Homo sapiens: one gene and its partners. The protein of the gene in region 7 purifies or fractionates together with the protein of the main gene of each other region. This does not show direct contact. Each region holds a gene or a part of one and is shown on either strand. Other genes may lie near its edges. The genes, in order: BBX, ZNF770, PRP4K, DDX51, RSBN1, TUBA8 and MACROH2A2.

The links.
Region 1: the proteins of MACROH2A2 (region 7) and BBX purify together in Homo sapiens (affinity purification with mass spectrometry; 2 studies listed by BioGRID and IntAct, with this or other methods). This does not show direct contact.
Region 2: the proteins of MACROH2A2 (region 7) and ZNF770 purify together in Homo sapiens (affinity purification with mass spectrometry; 2 studies listed by BioGRID and IntAct, with this or other methods). This does not show direct contact.
Region 3: the proteins of MACROH2A2 (region 7) and PRP4K purify together in Homo sapiens (affinity purification with mass spectrometry; 2 studies listed by BioGRID and IntAct, with this or other methods). This does not show direct contact.
Region 4: the proteins of MACROH2A2 (region 7) and DDX51 purify together in Homo sapiens (affinity purification with mass spectrometry; 2 studies listed by BioGRID and IntAct, with this or other methods). This does not show direct contact.
Region 5: the proteins of MACROH2A2 (region 7) and RSBN1 purify together in Homo sapiens (affinity purification with mass spectrometry; 2 studies listed by BioGRID and IntAct, with this or other methods). This does not show direct contact.
Region 6: the proteins of MACROH2A2 (region 7) and TUBA8 purify together in Homo sapiens (affinity purification with mass spectrometry; 2 studies listed by BioGRID and IntAct, with this or other methods). This does not show direct contact.

What each region holds. Positions count from the first base shown.
Region 1 is NC_000003.12:107,774,462-107,777,961, forward strand, and holds part of BBX (HMG box transcription factor BBX), read left to right. Parts: intron 1-257; coding exon 258-396; intron 397-3,500. UniProt on the Homo sapiens protein: Transcription factor that is necessary for cell cycle progression from G1 to S phase.
Region 2 is NC_000015.10:34,981,788-34,985,287, forward strand, and holds part of ZNF770 (zinc finger protein 770), read right to left. Parts: intron 1,704-3,500; 5' UTR 1,648-1,703; coding exon 1-1,647. UniProt on the Homo sapiens protein: May be involved in transcriptional regulation.
Region 3 is NC_000006.12:4,052,300-4,055,799, reverse strand, and holds part of PRP4K (serine/threonine-protein kinase PRP4 homolog), read right to left. Parts: intron 3,081-3,500; coding exon 2,927-3,080; intron 248-2,926; coding exon of another isoform or gene 224-247; exon of another isoform or gene 1-223. UniProt on the Homo sapiens protein: Serine/threonine kinase involved in spliceosomal assembly as well as mitosis and signaling regulation. Connects chromatin mediated regulation of transcription and pre-mRNA splicing.
Region 4 is NC_000012.12:132,136,094-132,138,706, forward strand, and holds the end of DDX51 (ATP-dependent RNA helicase DDX51), read right to left. Parts: 3' UTR 501-2,613; downstream 1-500. UniProt on the Homo sapiens protein: ATP-binding RNA helicase involved in the biogenesis of 60S ribosomal subunits.
Region 5 is NC_000001.11:113,802,477-113,805,976, forward strand, and holds part of RSBN1 (lysine-specific demethylase 9), read right to left. Parts: intron 1-3,500. UniProt on the Homo sapiens protein: Histone demethylase that specifically demethylates dimethylated 'Lys-20' of histone H4 (H4K20me2), thereby modulating chromosome architecture.
Region 6 is NC_000022.11:18,117,309-18,120,808, forward strand, and holds part of TUBA8 (tubulin alpha-8 chain), read left to right. Parts: intron 1-3,500.
Region 7 is NC_000010.11:70,055,846-70,059,345, reverse strand, and holds part of MACROH2A2 (core histone macro-H2A.2), read right to left. Parts: intron 1-3,500. UniProt on the Homo sapiens protein: Variant histone H2A which replaces conventional H2A in a subset of nucleosomes where it represses transcription. Nucleosomes wrap and compact DNA into chromatin, limiting DNA accessibility to the cellular machineries which require DNA as a template.

The DNA of each region.
Region 1 (3,500 bases), on a different chromosome or scaffold from region 7:
GTTAGTCTGTCTCTTTGAGTCATGTGATACCTGTTGAATTACATGACAATTAATCCCAGAAGCTCTAAGTCACTTTTCTGCATGTTCCATTATTAAAGATGGTCCAGCATGAATCACTCTGAGAACTCTGAAATAGCTACAGTTAGCTTCATGCAAATGATATGCAAGCAGTCAAGAGGTTGCTCGTGAAGCAACTAACATCATCTCCCCTCGCCCACCTGTATACCAAACACATCCTTTCTCTTGAATTTTCTTAGGAAAACGAAGCTCAGGAAAAGGAAACTCCTCTGATCATGAAGGGTGTTGGAATGAAGAAAGCTGGACATTTAGTCAGAGTGGGACCAGTGGGAGCAAGAAGTTCAAGAAGACAAAGCCAAAAGAAGACTGTCTCCTTGGGTAAGTGCCTGTGAGCACAGTCACCTGTACTCCACAAGCCTCAAGTGTGGGTGGGATTTTCAAGGTAAACAGATCACTAACTACGCATGCTTGTTCTTTGACTACTCGCTCAGGACTTCCTACAATCTTAGTAGGCACCCTAGTGAACACAAATCAAGTGCATCACATCATTCCTGCTGTTAACATGGTCATGTGAATGACAGTAACATTCACATTTTGATCATAGTGAAAATATATAGACTTTAGACTTGGACCTGAGTTTGAATCAACATCCCTTCACCAGGATGCATTTTTCCATCCGAAGCTTAGAATGGATAGTATTAGCATGTTTACATTTTGCCCATTTTACATACTATATGTATTTATTGTTTATAAAATGACAGCTGAAAAATGTAAGGTAAATGAAATTATGCTTCTATCGCCAACTTTATTTTGTTCCAGCTGTCTTCTGTTGCTCTAAGATAAAAATATCAGGTCAAATATTCTGCTGTAGAGAACATTCAATATATTAATTATATATTGAAATGCAGTATTAAGCAATGGCATGCATCAAGATAAAATCACTTAAGAATTATTTTATATTTAACGTTATGCCAAAGACTGTTAATAACCATCTTAATATAAAGTATTTTGTTAGTTAGGAGATCCAATACTTTATACTGGTGAGGAAAGTATCTGCATATTCAGTTAGACTATTTTGAAAATTCTTGAGGTTTCTTGTCGGCTCAATTTGAAAAGAATACTTTGAATAGAAATAAGTACATTGTTATATTCACCATATTTTTTCAAAAGTGTGTTTAAAGCTATGCAAATTGTATGCATTGGGTGTATTGTATTTGATTTATTCATAATATTTGCATATCTCTTTGTGGAATAATATATTTTTCCTTAGATGTCACAGTGCTTTAAGTCTGGCTAATTCTAAGGCTCTAGGTCATCACAAAGTAGCGAGGTAGAAATTATTTCCCATAGTGCTGGCTCTTTAAGATTATTTTTATTGAAATGATATATTTATAATTTTATGTATTTCATTTCTAATATTTTTAAAAATCCAAAGTACTTCAAATTAATTTTGCTTATAATTTTATGTATTTCATTTCTAATATTTTTAAAAATCCAAAGTACTTCAAATTAGTTTTGCTTACATTTTGCTTAAGTAATGACATGAAAATCCTCGTATTTCAGTGTCAAATCATAGTGTAAATGCAGAATATCATTTTAAAATGACCTGCAAGCATCTAGACCAGTGCTCTCTGTAGTCTGGAATTACTGCCACTGCCTTGTGGGTCTGCTCACTGAGAGAGGAGCAGGTGTTATGTAGGCAGTGTGAGGTCCTAGGGGAATAAAGCAAGCATTGAGGCTCCCCAACAGAAGCATTTCTCTGATGCTTCTATTAGAAACTGCTGAAGCTGTAAGAGAGATTTTCATCAATTTTCTTTGAGGAACAAGATAAGTGAAACAATCTTGAAAATCTGTTCCTGAAAAGAGATTGGTATGTGGATTGTATGTGTTTGTTTTTTTAATCATTTCTGAGGAAGGCACATGTGTATAACTGGGAGATGCTTTTTTATAGCTGTAAATTAACAGTAAACTTCAGTGCCTTTTCCTCCTTTCTCCCTTTAAATATTGGCCTGTCAGGATTCGAGTATTTGGGTTTGCCTTGTTTAGAACACGCCAGTATAATACTTAAGCAGGGAGAAATGCCATTTCCTGTCAGTCTGCTCTGAGATTTGTAGATGAGCATTTTAAACCTTTTTTTATCTCAGAAAATGTGCTACCTGTTAACTGTAGCCAAGAAAAATTCTCTCAGTATTGACAGATCTAATTTTATAGACTTCTCTAAGAAAAACATAAATGATTATTATTGTTCTCTTTTTAAGAAAAGTCTCAAGAGACCTTATGAGTTACGTCTCACATTTTCAGTTTTCTTTTGGGTATTCAGAGTATTTGAAAAATTCACAACTTATAGACAGCTTTCTGATAGTATTTAATTAGTATCCAATTGTATCTGATTTTCCATCAGAATAAACATTTTTTAACTAAATGAGAAATGGTGATGTTATTAAGGGGAAAATATCACCTCCACCCGTTACCCTTTATTGCTTTGACAGAACTTAGTACAGTAGTTCCCCCTTAGCCATATTTTTGCTTTCTGCAGTTTTGGGTCTGAAAATACTAAATAGAAAATTGCAGAAATAAACAACTCATAAGTTTTAAATTATGCACCACAATGAGTAGCATGATGAAATCTCGTGCCATCCCACTTCATTCCACCCACTGCATAAATCATACCTTTGTCTATCATATTTCACTGTACAATATGCATGTATAGGAACAAACGTAGCATATGTAAGGTTCAGTACCATCAGCGGTTTCAGGCATCTACTGGGGGACTTGGAGTATATCCCCCCTCCAGTAAAGGGGTGCTTCCATAATTGCCATTTCCTGTTGACCATTCAGTTGGTCATCTGACCCTCTTATCTCTGCTTCTCAACTCTTGTATATTCCTCCAAAACAGTTGTAGTTAAAAACATTTTTAGGACACCCCTTAGCTAGCAGCCTAACACATTTACTGCTTATAAGCTGGTACTAAAATTGCTCTCCTCTTCCCAATACACCTTCTTCCATTTTCCATCTACCAGGCACAGCAGTTGTCCTACAGCCTCTTCCATCTGTCTAGGTTGCATGTTAGTTTAATAAGTCTCACCTAATGAAAGCCAGAAGCCAGCCTAGGATCCAGCAGGCATGTTGCCATTGCTGTGGGACCCTAGAGACAGTCAGCACCAGCCCAGAGATTGCCCAACTTTACGGGTGGCATTTCTGAAGTCATTGATGATTTAAGTTAAAGCATGTTGCCTCTGTGCCATTGCATTCATTGAAAACTGGCTTTACTTTGCTCATTGAATATTTTGTCTTCATTCTAGTCCACTCTCCAGAATGTTTTCCTAGTATTAATGCTTTTTGTTTGTGTATGTTTTAATCAAACAGTAGTCAGTACATTTTTTTAAAGAAACTAATTTTACAAAACTACCAATATATCATATGGTAATTTAATAAGCTTGATTATTAATAATAAGCTTATTAATTTAATAAGATTGATATTG
Region 2 (3,500 bases), on a different chromosome or scaffold from region 7:
TGAATGATTAGAAAGATTGTTGAAGTTTCCAAATTCTACTTGGCAAAGAGATGCATAAGGACTCTTTTCATTATGAGTCTGTTCATGTCTTTTTAAGTGAGCTGACTGTCTAAAAGATTTCCCACAAATATTACAGCCAAAGGGCCTCTGTCCAGTATGAATTAAATAGTGTCTTTTTAGTTTGGATATAGAAGGAAATACCTTCTCACATTTGTCACAAGGACATATCTTATGTCTAGTACGTATGTTTTCCCTTGGAACTGAAAAACCACACTGAAGTACCTCACAGTTATTAAAGAATTCCTCACCTGATGAACCACAGATTGACAAGTCTTTCTTATTCACTGAATTATCAATGCTTAATATGTTTTCTGTCGTAAGGATGCCTTTCAAATTTTTTCCCATATTTTGCCAAGAAAATGGCAAAGTCAATGTTTTCTTCTTTCTATTGCCAATTGTTTTATATGTTCCATGTTTGCCAAGAGAACCCACAAATGTTCTCTGGGTTTGTTCAGAGCTCTGCTCACCAGAAATAAGATCACAATTTCTCAAGAAACTCTTTTTAAATACTTTTTTCTCAGATTGAAAGTTATCTAATTTTTTACTCCTAGCACGCTTAAGCTTGGCCAAGATTTTTTTAACAATGGTTTTATAGTTGTAGCTTCTTTTGAACCTGCTTGGAATTTTGCCACTTCTAGCAGCAAAACAGCTGTGTTCATTGAGAATCTGCTCTGATTCAAAACACTTTTCACACTTTGGACATTGAAAAGGGACAATATAAATTGAGTGGACATCAAGTGGATTATTCTCCTCAGATTCACCAATCTCACCATTTTCAAAACCACCCTGATTTGCATTTAACTTATTAGGCAGGGGGCGAGATTCTGTACGCCTCTTCTTTAATAAAAGAGCCCGAAAAGCCTTATTCCTAGTATGGATTTGTTTATGCTTCAGAAGTTTGCTTTGAATCTTAAATCCTTTTTGACAAAAACAACATTGAAAAGGTCTTTCTTCTGAATGTGTAAGTTGGTGGATTTTTAAGTGAGTTGACTGTCGAAAAGATTTAGTACACAAGACACATTTAAAAGGCCTCTGACCAGTATGAATAAGTACATGCCTATCAAGTTTTGACTGTGATGGAAACATCTTGCCACAGATTGTACATGCATGAATATTCTTTCTTCTTTTCATGCTATACATGGGATCAGACTTAGAGCACGGGTGTAATGCCCATCTTTCCTCTGTGGTAAAAGTATTATACACTCCATACATTGACTTTTCTTGCTTGGCCTCCAGCAATCTTCTGACCTGTTTAACATTATTCTGATAGGTTTCATTGTGAAGTTGTTGGTGCTTCACAAATGTCTTCAGATTTTTAAAGTGACGCTGACAAATACTACATTTAAAAGGCAGACTATGAGTTAGTTGATGCCTCTCCAGATGAACTAGTTGTCTAAAGGTTTTATGACACACATCACATTCAAATGGCTTTTGACCAGTATGAATGAGATAGTGCCTAGCTAATTTTGATGGTGTTTCAAAGTGCTTAAAACAAATATTGCAAACATATGGCCTGTTTCTAGGTAGTTTGTTGGCTACCACACACTGTTGAATCTTTAGCATTTTTAAATTGTTTTCAGCCATCATATTCTTCAATGATATACTCTGATGAGCTCCATACTGTTCTTAAATTCCACAGATGTCTAAAAATTAAAGGAAAAAAAGTATTAATTTTAAAATTATTTATTCATATGAAAAGTAACTTAAGTTGTTCTTTGGCTGAAGATATTAAAGGCAAAGGAGAATCTGGACTTAGTGTTTACAAGTTAATAATCATTTTAAGTAATACTTTAGAATAATAATACTAATTTTATACATACAGAGATATGAGTCTTTAAAAGAAATATCTAAAAATCAATACAATTTTAAGCTATTTTTCTAATTGAGATGCTACATTAAATGAGGACTAGGCTGAATTTCTTAACATGAAATAGATATTTTAATTCCAATTTTCCTATTTCATTATTAGGTAGATTTGCCAGTATTTAGTTGCCATCATTTTAAAAAATGGGCTAGAAAGGTAACAAATCAAAACATAATACTAAAAATAAGATATACTTGCATTCAATTATAGCACATTGTAAATATGCTCTTAGAATAGAACATTTCACTTATCATAGGTGGATTTCTTAGCCACAAATTTAACATGAGTTATTCTCAATTACTTCTTTAGACCAACAAGGACAGTGTGGACTAGGAGAAAATTCACAGAAGACCTGGGTTCTAGTCCTGGATTTGCCACTATACGATCTTGGTGGTAGGAAGAAGGAAATACAGAGTTCTCATCTGTAAAATGGGGAAAAGGTCTCCTGGATTGTCTACCACCACAAGCTGTTGTCAAAAATCAATGGAGATAATGTATATGAATGTGCTAAAAAACAGTGAAGCAATACATAAATCTAAGGAACTATTTAGCTCAACACTAATCAAATTTTAAAATGTTATCCTTATCGTCTTAGTAACATTTTTAAGCGTTTCTCAATAAGAGATAAACCCACTGACTAAATTTACAGGTTTTAAAAATTTCTCACCTGGCGCCGTGGCTCACGCCTGTAATCCCGCACTTTGGGAGGCTGAGGCTGGTGGATCACCTGAGGTCAGGAATTTTGAGACCAGCCTGGCCAACATGGTGAAACCCCGCCTCTAGTAATAATACAAAAATTAGCCGGGTGTGGTAGTGCACACCTGTAATCCCAGCTACTCAGGAGGCTGAGGCAGGAGAATCACTTGAACCCAGGAGGCAAAGGTTACAGTGAGCCGAGATCGTGCCATTGCAATCCAGCCTGGGTGAGAATCCATCTCAAAAAAAAAAAAAAAATTCTCCTTTTCACTTTGTTGTGAAATTCCCAAAAGACAAGCATAGAGGTAATAAGATCGACAAATTGGTTACTTATATAGCTATCTATGACTAAGTAATTGAAACTTGAGTGTGCTTTGCCCATCAGGCAATATAGTAAAAGGGTCATTTTGGTCTTAAGCGTTAATATAAAGATTTAAAAAACTGGCCCAGTGCAGTGGCTCACACCTGTAATCCCAGCACTTTGGGAGGCCAAGGCAGGGAGATCACATGAGGCCAGGAGTTTAAGACCTGCCTGAACAACGTGGCAAAACCCCGTCTCGACTAAAAATACAAAAATTAGCCAGGCGTGGTAGTGCACATATGTTAATTCCAGCTACTTGGGAGGCTGCAGCACGATAATTGCTTGAACTGGGGAGGCGGAGGTTGCACTGAGCCAAGATTGCACCACTGCACTCCAGCTTGGGCAACAGAGCGAGAGACTGTCTCAAAAAAAAAAAAAAAAAAAAGTTTAGCAAGCACTTTCATAACTATCTTATACTCTATCTTCTATCAGAGAAGCCAATTTTCTTTTCATTATTACTTTACTATGGCACTGCCCTTAAATAAAGGAGTCAGAGATTTTTTCAAAAAAAAATTAAAA
Region 3 (3,500 bases), on a different chromosome or scaffold from region 7:
AATCCCTCAAATATAAAGAAGGTATTAGTCAAGAAAATGTTAAATATATCTGGCAAAACTGATAAACATGAACTCTATATTAGTCATTTGTTTCTTTTTTCCTTTGTAAATACTTCAACATACACAGTAATAGTGACATCTGCTGAGAAAGGCTGGAGTTGCTCCCATGACTGCTGCCACTCATGAGTCAGAGGCATGTTCAGGATTAACAAGTGAAGATAATTCATATTCCAGAGTCCCTTCCCCCCTTCAAAAGAGACACACACAAATTCCGAGTTGGGACTTGAACTTGGCCTACTGCTCCCACCCCAAAGCAGCATAACACTATAGCCTTAGGCAGTCTCTATGGGGAGACTGGACTATTATAAATGATATCCAGAGTTAAGCTATTAATAGGAACAGAAATGATTATTTTTAACTCCCACATTGATTACTATTCTTTTCATCTTGGGAATCAGAAAAGCATCTTAAAATAGAAAAGTTATTTTAAAACTTTTTAAAGTGTAAGCTGAATTCAGCTACTTAAGCAGTTTCAATACCCACAGAAAACTTAAGAACCATTTTAAAATTAGAATCCATCAGTGGAACTCTTGGGCTGGCTAAAATGCCTTAAAGAATAGCAGGGTATCCATACTCATATGCACTTCAGTTTGCTACACAACTTCTGCTCCTGTCATGAGGAATGTGGTACTTAAACCACACTGATACCTGAAATTACGAGCTAAAGGCTTTGGATTTTCATTAACAAAAATCAGCTCCGTCATTAAGGTCTATTTTTTCCTTCCCCAGGAAGACGGGAAAACATTTCTTAAATGTATGTGAAAACCTATACTAGTTTAGCATTAGGTTTTAAAAACAAGAGTTTCTTCTGTGACACTGGCAAATGTGTTATTCTTTAACCTCCACAATGGTCACAAAGACGCTCACTGTAAATGACCTTTTAAATTGTACATGTTTTGCATATTCTTTGACATGAACCATGTATTTCACAATTAAAAAACAAAAAATTGGCTCACGCTTATAATCCCAGCACTTTGGGAGGACGAGGCGGGCAGATCACGAGGTTAGGAGATTAAGACCATCCTGGCCAACATGGTGAAACCCCGTCTCTACTAAAATACAAAAATTAGCTGGGCGTGGTGGCCCCTGCCTGTAATCCCAGTTACTCGGGAGGCTGAGGCAGGAGAAATGCTTGAACCAGGGAGTTGGAGGTTGCAGTGAGCCGAGATCACGCCATTGCACTCCAGCCTGGTAACAGGGCAAGGCTGTGTCTCATAAAAAAAACTGAGGTAAAAATCAACTATGAAATTGGCCACACAAATTTATACTTCATTTTTAATGTACCTACCATTTCAATGAAATTACTCAGCTCCCCTAACTCCAAGTTACATTAGATATACAATACAATAATAATTCAGACCAAACATAAAAATGGAATACACCTCATTACTAATGTGGTTGTCTGGAAGGAAATAAAGGAAATATTTTAAGATATTAACAAAAAAGAAAAAGAAATATGAATTAAATAGCTTAGTTATTGATTAAAAAAAAACTCCTTAAACTTTAATGAGATCACCATTTTTTAAAGAATTTATCTTGGCCAAGCATGGTAGCTCACACCTATAATCCCAGCACTTTGGGAGGCTGCAGCAGGAGGATTGCTTGAGCCCAGGAGTTTGAGACCAGCCAAACCTCATCTCTAAAAAAAATTTTTTTTAATTAGGCAGTCACAGTGGCATGTGCCTGTGGGTAGTCCCAGCTACTGGGGAGGCGGAGGCAGGAGAACTGCTTGGGCTTAGGAGTTGGAGGTTACAGTGAGCCATTATGGCACCACTGCACTCTAGCCTGGGTGACAGAACAAGACCTTACCTCAAAACAAAACAAAACAAAACAAAAAAAACAAAAGAAAAAATCAAAAGTATTTATTTTGTTATAGCTCCAAGAGTTCCCAATAAAGAACACCTTACACGCTTAGCTTTTAGTCTTCAGGATCTCTCCTAGGCATCAACTGTAGGAGAACTGATAAAGAGAACCCATTTTAAAAAAATGAAATGCAGAATGTTACCAGCATATAAGCTGGAATTCTCCAAGTTGCGAACACGACCCAAACTGAAGGCCACAAAACAGGGTAAAGTAATGGGGCCAGGGAGGGGAGGAGTGTGTGTGTGCATTAATCACATCACTATGATAATATGTATGTATTTCAAAATTTTAAAAACATATACATTGTGAAATCTGCTGTTACCACCAGAAGTCACTAGTCGAAGAGAATTAAGGTTTCAAAAGGTGAGAACACATGGACACACAGGGGAACAATACACACTGGGGTCCGTCAGAGGCTGGAGGGTGAGAGATGGGAGAGGATCAGGAAAAGTGGGTACAAACCCTCCATGACACAAGTTTACCTATGTAACAAGCCTGCACATGTACCCCTGAACTTGAAAGTTTAAAAATAAAATAAAATAAACTTCAAAAGCGATGCCTTTAAATATAATACCTAACCACAACTGAGCTTTATTGTGTTTGAGCCCCCAGGAGCCACAGCTTAGGGAGCTATAAAATTAGCAAACAGAAGAGTACGGACACTCCTTATTTCAAAACAGCAACATGTGCAGCATTTTTCTAAAGATAACAGAAGAAACTCATTACTACAGTAAAGCATTCCAGGATTGGTGCACACTTTAAATCTATCAGTCAAAAGAGAAAAAAAGGGACAATTGTACATTTCCTTTTTCTTCATACTTGTCAATAAAATTTCACTGTCCGATTTCCAAGAAAGATAAAAAAGTATTAGTCATTTGAAATAGGTTATTAATATACTGAACTATGCTTCTAAGATGTCGTTTCTCATAGTAATAATATTACTGCTAGTAAGAAGTGAAATGTATGTTCAAGATGTACAGCGCAGCTTGGCTGTTTGACTTACCAGGATATTGTCTGGCTTGATATCTGCATGTAGGATATTGCATCTTTTAAGGAGTTTCAATGCCAGGAACAACTGCTGACTATAGGATCTTACAGCTTTAATATGAAGACCAACATCTTTACCATATTTTTTTAACACCTCTCGTAAGTTCATGCTTTTAGGAGAAAATTAAAAAAAGAAAACAAAATAGGAGTTAAAATGCAAAATGGAAATATAAAAAGGCAAAAACATTTGCAAGCATAAAGTAAAATCAAGCGCAAAATAAAAATATGTAAGAACCACCCCCACATTTGATAAATCATTTTATATTGAAAGGAGAGCATATCAAATTGTATGTATATAACACAGTTTCTGAATAAATTCAAATTTTCTAAATAGGTAAGAAGAAAGATATGCAAGGTAAAACTCCCATTTCGATTTTAGAATAGATTCACATCTGAAAACACAACAAAGCCACACTGTTGAAGATAAAAATTCCTTCCTTGAAGTATTTCATTTTAAGAGAGACTCTCTGTTGAACCCGGGAGGTGGAGGTTGCAGCGAGCCAAGACTGCACCACTGTACTCCGGGAGGA
Region 4 (2,613 bases), on a different chromosome or scaffold from region 7:
CCGAGTGTGCCCACGGTGCCCGCTCCTCCCACCTCCCCGAGTGTGCCCACGGTGCCCGCTCCTCCCACCTCCCCGAGTGTGCCCACGGTGCCCGCTCCTCCCACCTCCCGAGTGTGCCCCGGTGCCCGCTCCTCCCACCTCCCGAGTGTGCCCACGGTGCCCGCTCCTCCCACCTCCCCGAGTGTGCCCACGGTGCCCGCTACCTCCCACCTCCCGAGTGTGCCCACGGTGCCCGCTCCTCCCACCTCCCGAGTGTGCCCACGGTGCCCGCTCCTCCCACCTCCCCGAGTGTGCCCACGGTGCCCGCTCCTCCCACCTCCCGAGTGTGTGGCCAGGCCCACATCTTATGTCTGCGAACCCAGCAGCACTGAGCCACTATCAATCCCCGATAAATGGCAATCATCGTGAAGCAGCCTTGTGGTCTGGGGTAAATACCAAGGTTCTTGGTCTCATGGCCAAGGAGATCGAGGTCGCAGACAGACACACACACACACAGTGAGTTTGGAGCAGAAGTTTAATAAGCAAAAAGGAAGAAGAGCTCTCCGTTGCAGAGGGGGCCTGAGCGGGTTGCTAAGTTGTAGTAAAGATGTCAAGGTTTCTTTTTTTTCTGTCGCCAGGCTGCAGTGCAGTGGGCTGATCTTGGCCCACTGCAACCTCCACCTCCCGGGCAAGTGATTCTCCTGCCTCAGCCTCTTGAGTAGTTGGGACTCCAGGCACACGCCACCACGCTCAGCTAAGTTTTGTATTTTTAGTAGAGATGGGGTTTCACCATGTTGGCCAGGATGGTCTCGATCTCCTGACCTCAGGTGATGCGCCTGCCTCAGCCTCCCAAAGTGCTGGGATTACAGGTGTGAGCCACCGTGCCCGGCCTGTCAAGGTTTTTACAAATGGGCTAGTGACGAGGGGTTAGAGGAGGGATGTCTTGTCCTCCCAGGGCCCAGGGTTTTAGCTGGGACAAGGTGTGCTATTTGTATAGAGAGTTTCTGTCAGACTCAGTCTGTGCTGCTCTGTGACACTTTTCTGCGAGGGTCTCTGGGTCTGCTCCCAGACATCTTCTTGGGGTTACAGGCACCCCTCAGTCTGCTTTTAGCTTCCCTTAGTGCACCTAAGGGGACGGGAATGTGCTTATTAGGGTCCACTGTTTTACTGGGGCCCATTGTGGAAGTGTGAAGTTTGGTGATCACCCAGGAGACACCCCCCGCACTCCTGTGCCCGAGCTGTCTCATCTGTGATTCACAGTCTGCTCTTTCTGGCTGCTTGTCGTGAGAAGTGATTTTGAACCCCGAGGTTAGAAAGGGAGCTATTTTTGAGCTGCTTTTTGTTAAAAGGCAAATTTTCTGCTGGGGACTGGCTTTACCCCGTCTACCTAAATCATTTCTTTCTGCCTCCTGTAACAGTCGCCTTTTGTGTTCTGCTGGCATTTGTTTGAACACAGTCCACAGGTTCAGTGGTTGCATCTCTAATCAGCTGCCAGTCCCCATCCCAGACATTCTTTGCATCTAAGCTGAGGTCTGAACTGAGTGGGGTGGGCTGGTGTTTCCATCCTCACAACTCCAGTGAGCCGGGTGTGGCCGTGGCCTGCGTCTCCCTGGCGGTTAGTGATGTTGGCATCATCCACCTTTTTCAAACAAAGCACTGGACTGAGAGAATTCACACACTGTATCCACCCAGTCCATGGTTTTTAGTAAAAGGTTTATAGAGGTGAGCAGCCATCACCACACACAACCTAAGAACATTTTCATCATCCCCAAAACAAACCCACACACTGGCCACTGTGTCCCCAGCCCCAACCCCCACCAACTCCCGGCCCCGGCACCCTTCAATCTCTGGCTGTGCCTGGGACACTCCCTATAGCCGGAGCCTTCCTTCAGTTAGCGTCAGGTTCCGGGTTCATCCACGGGGTGCCTATGCTGGTGCCTCACTCCTTTTTCTCTCCTGGTGTGGATTTCCCACGTTTTATTCTCCATTCATCAGCTGACGGACATGTGGTTTCTAGTTTTTGGCTACTGTGAACAGTGCTGCTGAGAGATTTGTGTACGTTTCTGTGTGGATGTAGGTTTCATTGATCTGGGGTGTACAAGGTGCATAGGAGAGGAAGTGCTGGGTCATGAGTGACTCTGTGTTTAACGCCCCAAGGCTTTGCCCAGCTGTCTCCACGTGACCTTCCCACCAGCAATATGTGAGGTGTCCACTGAACAGTCACAAGGTTCACAAATCTGGGGAGGAGAGCTTTTTTTTTGACGGAGTCTCACTCTGTTGCCCAGGCTGGAGTGCAGTGGCGCAGTCTCCGCTCACTGCAAGCTCCGCCTCCCGGGTTCACGCCATTCTCCTGCCTCAGCCTCCCGAGTAGCTGGGACTATAGGTGCCCGCCACCACGCCCGGCTAGTTGTTTTTTTTTTTTTTTTGTATTTTTAGTAGAGACGGGGTTTCACCATGTTAGCAATGATGGTCTCTATCTCCTGACCTTGTGATCCACCTGCCTCGGCCTCCCAAAGTGCTGGGATTACAGGCATTTGCCACCGCGCCCGGCAATTTTTTTTTTTGAGACGGAGTTTTGCTCTTGTTGCCCAGGCTGGAGTGCAGTGGCGCAATCTCAGCTCACTGCAACCTCCA
Region 5 (3,500 bases), on a different chromosome or scaffold from region 7:
TTCTATATAAATACCTGACTAAAAAGGAAAAACAAAAAACTACTCATTTTGAAAGCCAAACATTTGTGAATCATTGTATGTTTTTAACACTGCCTTACTTTACCCACCATCTCTCTATATTATGGTGTTTTAAGAGCGCTGTCTAGGTTTAAATCCCTGTTCTATAACTTTCTAGTATACTTTCTAGAAGTATACTTTCTAGAACTTTTTTTTCCCTAAGCCTTTACTTTTTTTTTTTTAGAGCAGTTTCAGGTTCCTAGAACTATAACCACACCTGGCTCCCACAAATGCATAGTCTGTCTCCCTGATTATCATCACCCCCAGCCAGAGTGGAATACTTGTTACAACTGATAAGTCTACATTGATGCATCATTATTCGCCTGCCCGCAGTCCATGGTTTACATTCAGGTTCACTCTTGTTGTACATTCTGAGGGTTTGGATAAATGTATGACATGTATCCACCATTAATTAAGTTGCATAAAGAGTAGTTTCACTGTCCTATAAAATGCTCTGTGCTCTGCCTATTCATGCAACCCTCTCTAAAACCCCTAGCAACCACTGATCTTTTAACTTTCTTGATAGTTTTGCCTTTTCCAGAGTGTCATATAATTGGAATCATAAAATGTGCAGCCTTTTCAGGATGGCTTCTTCCACTTGGTAATATGCATTTAAGGTTCCTCCATGTCTTTTTATGGCTTGATAGCTCATTTCTTTTTAGCACTGAATAATATTCTACTGTCTGGATGTACCACAGTTTATCCATTTACCTACTGAAGGACATTTTGATTGCTTCCAAGTTTTGGTAACTATGAATAAACCTATTATGAACACCTATCTACAGGTTTTTGTGTGGACACAAATTTTCAGCTCCTCGGGGTAAATATCAAAGAGTATGACTGCTGGATCGTATAGTATGTTTAGTTTTGTTAAGAAACTGCCAAACTGTCTTCCAAAGTGGCTGTATCATTTTGTATTCCCAACAATAATGAATGAGATAGCATATCTTTTTGCAAGTTAATTCTTTGCACTGCTTCTCATTGGTAAAACCGGAGGAAAGAACAGTATCTCATTATAAAATTAGTGTGCAGAGTAAATGAAAAACGCATGTGAAGTACTTATAATAGTCCTAGAACATAATAAATACTCAATACATCATAACTACTATTATTGCCAAAAACAGTTGAATTCTAGAGGCAGTAGAGTGTACTATTTAAGATAAGAACAGGTGCTGTACTGTTAGATAGACCTAAGTCAATGTCCCAGCTCTATTGTTTACTAAGGTCTCTGGGTAAGCTCATAAATCTCTTTAAATCTAAATTTTCTCATCTTAAAATGTTATAATAGGCCAGGTACAGTGCCTCATGCCTGTAATCCCAGCACTTTGGGAGACTGAGGCAGGAAGACTGCTAGAGTCCAGGAATTCAAGACCAGCCTGAGCAACACAGCAGGACCCCATTTTTACAAAAAAAAAAAAAAAAAAAAAGTTAGCTGGGCTTGGCGGTGCATGCCTGTAGTCCTAGCTGCAGGAGTGAGCTAGGCTTAGCTACAGGCTGAGGTGGGAGGATCGCTTGAGCCCAGGAGTTCGAGGTTACAGTGAGCTATAATCACTTCACTACACTCCAGCCTGGGCAACCCCGTCTCAGAAAAAAAAAAAAGTTATTAATTCTAGAGTCTATCTCACAGAGTTATTTTAAGAATTAAATGAGACAATGACTATAAGGCCCTCATCACAATATGTGACACACAATAAGTCTCTTATCATCTTGATTATCAAGAGAAACACATAAGAAAGATCTCTGAAAGAGGAAAGAAAACGTATTTGCCAAATGTCTAATAGGGACCATATATGTTATTTTATTTTAATCCTCAAACCAATGAAGTACGGAGAAAGAAACAGCCTGAAACAAGATATGTAATTTATATTAGGTCACAAAGCTAGTACACAACAGCCAAGATTCAAACTTCTCACCTATCTGACTCCAAAACAAATTCTTCTAACATACTGCACCCTACACTCTCTTCCTTTCCGCCTCCACTATCAGACATCTCCCTGCAACACTCCCATTAGATGATCAACTAAGATTATCTGGTTACAATTAATGGACCTGAGGTAGCTTGGAATAAAGGGAGTATTACTTCAACAAATATCTTACTTAGTGCCATTTCAAAAGTTTTCGTGCCCTTAAAGGTGTTTTTGCCTCTCTCAGGGTGAGCAGGGAAAAATATTAGTCCCTACAGTTGTTGTTCTGATAAATAAGATTGTTTATTTCAATTCCCTTATAATCCCAATAATTCTCCATTGCTAACATCAAAAAGAAGTGTTTCTGGACTTAAAATCCCTGCTTTTTGACATGAGAGAAAATTTCCATTAAACATCTGGCTCAGGAACACTTACACTCGGTGATAGCAGTTAGGCAACTGGTCAAGAGTAAAAAAAAAAAAAAAAATGAGATAAGAAAGATGACTCACAAGAGCATACATATGAGCAATCCGGTCATGTAATGACATTGGAGAAGACAGCCTATGGGGGCTGTCCTTCCTTTCTTTCCTTTTTAACAACATATTAAAATCATGAATTTACTAAGAATAATTAAAAAGAAGCATTACTTCTTTTCATGGATTTTTAAGGAAGTATGTTTGTCCTATTTTTTTTTTTGAAACGGAGTCTGACTCTGTCGACCAGGCTGGAATGCAAGTGGCGCAATCTCAGCTCAGTGCAACCTCCGCCTTCCAGGTTCAAGTGATTCTCCTGCCTCAGCCTCCCAAGTAGCCCAGCTAATTTTTTGTATTTTTCGTAGAGACAGGGTTTCACCATGTTGACTAGGCTGGTGTCAAACTCCCGACCTCGTGATTTGCCCACCTTGGTCTGGGAATACAGGCATGAGCCACCGCGCCCGGCCTGTCCTATGTTTTTATGAGCAATAAGAGGGAGAGAAAAAAATTAAGATTTCAAAACACATAGGTAACCTCCAGTTTAGTTACACTCAAGCTTATTCCCTATAAGAAATAAAAACAGCATTTAAATATCTCTGTTAAATAATCAACCCCAGTGTGCATAGCAGAAAGAGAGGTCAACTGGGCCATGAGGGAAAAAAATTGAGTTCTGTATTCAGCTCTATCACCAACTAAAAAATTTTAAGCATTTCACTTCATCTCTCTGAAAATCACTTCTTTCTGTTTTAAAGATGAACAAGTTTACCCTAGCATTTACAGATTAAATTTTTGTTTCAACTGTTTATGAACAACTCCAAATGTCTGAGATTGTAATAATTTGTAATTAGTCTCCACATGAATTCAGATTAAATACTGTTGAACTGCTGTGCAGGAAGGAACATGTCTCTTAAGTGAACTCAAGGGTGGCAAACTTCTCTAAAGAGCCGAACAGCAGGCTTTGCAGGTCTTATGGTCTCTGTCTCAATTACTGTATTCTGCTACTGTAGTGCAAAAACTACCATAGACAATATATATGAATGAACAGAGCTATATTCCAATAAAGCTT
Region 6 (3,500 bases), on a different chromosome or scaffold from region 7:
ATTTTTATGAATACGCTGAACAAAGCAAATCAGTTTATTTGTCCCCCAAATATTTTGATTTGTTCAAACAAGAATTCAGTCAGAGTCCCCATGATGCGTGTGGTGGTGCTTGGTGGTGCCTTAGTTCCTTTGACATGGGACAGCCCCTCCCAGCTCTTCATTTCTCATGAGTTGAAAAGGCTGGGCCAGGCCCGATGGCTCACGCCTGTAATCCCAGCACTTTGGGAGGCTGAGGCAGGTGGATCACGAGGTCAGGAGATCGAGACCATCCTGGCTAACATGGTGAAACCCTGTCTGTACTAAAAGAATACAAAAAATTAGCCGGGTGTGGTGGCGAGCGCCCGTAGTCCCAGCTACCTGGGAGGCTGAGGCAGGAGAATGGTGTGAACCCGGCAGGCGGAGCTTGCAGTGAGCCGAGATCGCACCACTGCACTCCAGTCTGGGCGTCAGAGTGAGACTCCGTCTCAAAAAAAAAAAAAAAAAAAGAAAGTAAATAAAAAAAATTAAGAAAAAAAAAGGCTGGACCAGCTGCCCTGTAGGATGTCTCACCTTCTGGATTGATTTTGTTTTCTCTGATATCACTGAACTTAATTAACCCTCTGATCCCTGTGTTTCCTGTGAAGTGGAAACTGAATCTACAGGGCTCAGTGATGAGGGCTGAGTATTTTTGAGAAGAAGTCCTCACTGGTGGTGTGTGTGTCACATTGCGTCCCATCAGGAGGTCCTCGATGTCGGGTTGGCCCACAGTTAGCGATGCTGAGATTGATCGCGGCCTTAGGCTGGCGACCCTGGTAGTTACGTCCCCCCTTGTGACTATAACAGTGGTTCTTTGGCTCTCGGCGAAGATCCAGTTCCCCATCAGTCTTTCACCTAATGGTGTTGGCGTTCTTGTCCAAATCAATCACGTAATTAGAAGATGGAATAGGGCAATATTTGATAATCTATTATTCGGTCCACATTGCTTAGCAGACATTCTTCAATTAAAGAAAAAAGAGCCTTCTCTAACTAACGGGGCTGTCTGGATAGGGACAAATGAGTTTTTCTCTGGGGGTTTTCTTTGAGGACTTGTGGGTTTTCATCTTGCATCCTGCTTCACTCAAATGCTGCCATCAGTACTTGTGAGGCTCAGGTTGTCTCATCTTAGGCAGCAGGAGCCTCTTCAGGTGCTTGGGCAGCCCCTTGGTTAGCCTCCGTGCCTCCAGGCGCTATGCGACATTCCAGGCTCATCTAGCACACTCCCCACCCTGGACCTGGACGCCTCCGTCTCTCCAAGGAGCCCAGTTCCTGTTAGCAGGGATCTTCCTTCTCTCTTGATTGGTGTAGCTACTTTTCACTTTTGAGAGCACCTATGAATCTGTCAGTCATTTCTGAGTCTATTTTATGCCTCCAATTATTCTTATGAGCTAGTTCAATAGGAAAAATAGCTCTTTCTAAGGGGTGTGTGTGTTTGCACGACGGGGGCGGGGGAGAGAGAAAGAGACAGACATTTTGTAAAAGACTGGCATATGTATTAGTGTGAGATTAATGAGGGCATTAAAAGAGGCTAAAGACGTTGTCACCATGCTAGTGGTTTTCAGGTCCCCCAAATCCTTGACTCTTCCTCCCATGATCTTCGATTTTCCCAAAATATCCCTGCGTCCTCCCTGGAAAGCCCCAGAATGTTCCAGAAGTGAGAGCAGGCTGGGGGCCGGGCAGCACTGTAGGCAGGACTAGAGGGTGGTCGGGATGCGGTGGTGGTGAGGGGGCGACAGACCCAGAAGGCTGAGGGTTAGGACCACAGAGGACACTGTCACTTAGAAGGAAAATACATAGGATCAGGCCCCCCTCGGGCCTCTCCAGTGTCCCCTCAGCTTCCACACCTCCCTGGGAAGTCACAGCCACATGCTGAATGTGACGCCGTGGTCTGGGTGGATAACTCGCTGGTTGTGGGTGGTTTCTGGATGCAGATGCTGCTTTCCTTAGGCCTGAATTGAGCCCTCAGATGGAGGCAGAGAATAGACCCCACAATAAAGGAGAGAGGAGCAGGGACCTGAGAGCTCCCTCTACGTGTGCTACTTCCCGGTGCAGAAAAATGCTACCAGGTAGTACCGTAATGAAAATGATAATGGCAAGACAGCATCAACAACTGTGGCTAACTTACACTTTTCAGATGAGGAGAGGCTCAGTAACTCAGCCCAGGCCACACAGCACAGCAAGTAAATTGAGAAGGCAACATGGGAACCTGGGGCCGTGGGCAGCTCTGTGGGTGAATCCCCTCCCTAGCCACCAGGCTCACGGAGATCCAGCGGGTTGCGACCCCCGTCGGGCTGCCCCACGCTCACCCCTGTGCTCATCCTCCCTCAAGGCAAGGACCAGGTGTCGCTCAGCTGTAGCACAGAGACAGGACTAGAGTGGGGGCACAGTTGTAAAATTGAACTAGGGGGCAATGGTCCTGATGCTCTGACCCCGCAAGATGCTACTCAGGGCAGCTGCCCTGCTCTCCATGCCCAGAATTTCTTCCACGTCTCCAGGAGCCCCACACTTTGACGTGGACTCTACTGGCTTCTGTGCCCAGCCGTGCCCTCTGGAGGCTCTGCCCCTGGCTTGGGTTACCCGGAGCTGGAAAATGCCAGGGCAGGTCATGGGTAAAAATAGAAACCCACAGACCTGGCACATGCTTCCTGCTGGGCTCAGGCGGCTGCCCCAGGCACAGTGTCGCCTTGTGTGGGCCACTGCTTCCCCAGGGCAGGGTGTGGGTGGGAGGATGAGTCTATCACGCCTACGTGTGCACGTGCACACACACACACACACACTGTCTCTCTCCCCACCCCCCTTTTTCTTTAATAATTTCAACTTTTATTTTAGATTCAGGGAGTACATATGCAGATTTCTTACATGGGTATATATTGTGATGCCAAGGTTTGGGGTACGATTAATCCTGTCACCCAGGTAATGAGCATAGTACCCAATAGTTAGTTTTCCAATCTTTGCCCGCTTCTTCCCTCCCCGCTCCAGTAGTGCCCAGTGTCTACTCTTGCCATTTTTCTGTCCATGAGTACCCATGTTTAGCTCCCACTTATAAGAACATGTGGTATTTGGTTTTCTATTCCTGCATTAATTTGCTTAGGATAATGACCTCCAGCTGCATCCATGTTGCTGCAAAGGATATGGGTTCATTCTTTTTTGGGGGCTGCGTAGTATTCCATGGTGTATATGAATGACATTTTCTGTATCCAGTCTACCATTGCTGGGCACCTGGTTGATTCCGTGTCTTTGCTGTTGTGAATAGTGCTGTGATGAACGTGTGAGTGCAGGTGTCTTTTTGGTAGGATGATTTTCTTTTGGATATATACCCAGTAACAGGATTGCTGAGTGAAATGGTAGTTCTGAGTTCTTTGAGAAATCTCCAAACTGCTTTCCACAGTGGCTGAACCAATTTACATTCCCATCAGTGCACTCCCCATCTTAAGCTGTTAGTACGAATACCAATCAGGCAATTGTGGCTTCACATCAGCTTTACT
Region 7 (3,500 bases):
AAGGGGAGCTGTCCTGGCTGGAGTGGGCAAGTGCCTGGGAACTTCAACAGCTTGGTCGCCACCTTTCCTGCCTTGGGCCTCCAAGGAGCACTGGGTTCTGTGGAGCCCCACCTGAGAACCATTGCACCAGCTCACCTCTGAGGTCCTCTCCAACCTATAAGATGCTCAAAACAGACTCCCTCTGAGCCCCACCTGTCACTTACATTCACAGAGATAGAGCAACCAGGATAAATAAGTCACATTCACAGGATCTGTCCTTTGAAGTTGCTATTTCTTCACCCAGGATAACCACAGAAAAGAAAAACTGGACCTGAAAAAATCTGCTTGATTTTATATCTAGGACTGCCTTTTCTTCACCCCAAAACAATAATCTACATTGTTTACTATGGAACAGCTGAGGTGAAAATTCAGTTTAGTCGTGATAGGGTTGTTGGCGGGGTGGTGGGGGGACGGGGGACTTAAGTCAATGATCACTTCATTGAAATTCTGCAAGAAAGCTCAATTTGGAAGTTTACCACTCGGGATGAGCAACCCAGTGAATTACCACCTGACCTAAAAGTTTATGTTGCATATTGTATAAGCTATTGGGGTTTGCCTTTTTGTGGTCCACCACCACTATTTAATTTTAATGGTCTTATTGAGCAGTGAAGGCAGGAGCGCAAAATACAAGTTACAAAATTCTGTGTGTGTGTATATATATATATATATAAAATTGGCAGTGCCAGCCCAGCCAGCATGGGGCCTGGGTTCCAGGGTAGGTTTGATTTTATCTTGTGCTGCTTTTATCCTGTTGTCATAGAAATATCCCAAATTTGGGCATCTAAACTCTTATCATCAGGACCGCCTTTCATATCCAGAAACAACCCCTAAATCTTTGGCCAGATCATGTGTTGTAACTTTGAGTGAATAAATGTGGTCAGTGTATCTAACCCTTCTGACATCTCAGAATCAGTTGGAGTAAATGTCTGTACACTGGTGGTCTATGCATATTTCCACACACATTTCTATCAAAGCATGAGAATTTTGACTTGAATTACTTACTCCATTCCAAGTCCAAATTGGCAATGCCAGTCAAATAAATCGGGCAAAGTATGATGGATGGTGAGATGGATAAATGAACAGTAAGGGCTTCAGAGAAACCACCAAATTTATCTTATTTAATACTTTGTGACAAGACAGCTTAAAGTACAGAGTTCTGTGGCTCAGTCTCATATTCTTTCATTTGTCATAGTTGGATAAAGTAGTGAGACAAATAAGTTTTGAAAATAAAAATTTGCCTACACAAACATTAAGCTGAGTATCATCTGAGAATCATCGGAAAGCTACCAGCTCCTTGCTCTTACCACGTGGGCATAAGGATGTAGGGCTTTGGGGTCATGCTGCCTGGCCTGGAGTCCCTTGTGTGGTGACTTTGGGGCATGTTCTTCACCATCCCCCCACCATTTCGTTTTCCTGTGATGGGTGTAGTAATAGTACCTACTTATAGGGCTGCTGTCAGAATTAAATGGGTTAATACATGTAAGGTGCTTGAACAGTACCTGGCAGGTAGCAGACATTTAATAAACATTAACTACTGTGATTTATTTCCACAAAAGAAATCATTATAGAGAACTATTTTCATGAAATGCAGTCTGACATTTTCTTGGGCATATTTCTGCCTCTTTGTCCACTCTATTTCAAAACCAACCGCTACAATTAGTACGGTACTTGAGGTTGTATGTGTGTAAAGGGGTAATAATGAAAGTTTAACTCTAGGAAAACCCTGAGAGCCACATCATCTGCTGAGAACCCTCATGACAGCAAATAGTTTTGTTTTTCCCAAGGCTGGGCACTTTCAGATCCCCTCGGTCTAATCCTGTAGTCTCCAAATTCCATCTGCCTGAATTCATAGTCATTGCAATGTTGGAAATCACAGGATTTCACAAAATCATAATCTAAGACTGAAAGGGACTTGAGTGATCAATCATTTAGCATTCTCCCACTCCCCACCCCCACCCAAATGTAGCTACAATGAAAGGAATGGCTTGGAAGGGAACGTGCTCATTGAATGACTTGTCCATGGCCTGTGAGACCAAACTAGAACCAGCCCCCTTACCTCAACTGCTGCAACTGGGCTGTTCTTCCAAAATGCTATTGCATGTTTTACCCCCAGATGCCACCTAGCATAGTGTTAGGTCACAGTTGATATTCAATAAATATTCCTTCAACTAGTGTTTGAATAAATGAAACCAGCCTTAAATATTTTGTTTCAAAAGGTCTCTTTTGTGATTTTTTGGGGGAAATGAATTATCCTCCCAAACACTTATCTTTCCCTCCAACCTAATTCCCAATATACATCCCAGTGTATATTGGGGAAAAAAATTCTATCTTCAAGATTTCACTACACTCCTTTTAAAAACATGATCTTCCAATACTATATTGGAACTCATATACTTCTCTACTGGCTCGTTTTTCTCTTTCTTCTATATATAGAATTTAAGGTAGTCACAGACTTAAATGGCAATGAAAAAAATTGTGAGGGTTCTTTTAGTTCATCCTTCAACCTGAACCTTGGCAGGGTAGGCCAGGCCAGGACTCTCAGCCTTGCAAGGGAATCTCATAATCATGTTGAAGAATGAGGACTAGCTGGAACACAGCATCTGCATCCAGCTTCCTTCCACCTGCCTCGCTCCCTTACCCTTCTTCATCCAAATCCTGCCACGTTCTCTATGAAGCCTAGCCCAACACCCTCCCTTCAAGTCCAAAACTCTCTTCTCCCTTTACAAACTACTGTAGTAAATTTTTTGTGTATATCGTTATGTATTAATTATGTATTATCATTATGTATTATCAATCACTTTAAAATTATTACTTGTATTTAGTTATCCAAGCAAGACATACATTAATTCAAATTACAGAACTTGGCCGGGCATGGTGGCACACGCCTGTAATCCCAGCACTTTGGGAGGCACAAGCTTGTAGTCCCAGCTACTAGGGAGGCTGAGGCAGGAGGATCACTTGAGCCTAGGAGATGGAGGTTGCAGTGAGCTGAGATTGTGCCAATGCACTCCAGCCTGGACAAGAGATACTCCATCTCAACAAAACAAAACAAAACAAACAAAAAAAACAAATTACAGAACTTCAAATATTGTAACAAGGTTATGGATGGGTATCAATAATGATATGGCTAAAGCCCTTCTTGACAATTCCTCTAGTTCTTGTCTCTCTTAGTGGGCATCTTCTATACTTTTTCTGTCCATTTTGTATGAATTTTTACTTATAGAGATGTATAATTTTATATCGTTTTAATATCAATAGTACCATATAGTATGTACTGTTCTGCAATTTGCTTTTTTCATTAATAGTACATCTTGGTGATCTTTTTCTGTCTCAGTATGTATAGATCTGCTTCATTCTTTTGAACTGCTGCCTAATATTCCAGAAGACAGATGCACCAGAGTTTATTTAGCCATTCCCTGTTGATGGCTGTTAGGCTGTTTTCTACTTCAGAATGACCAAAA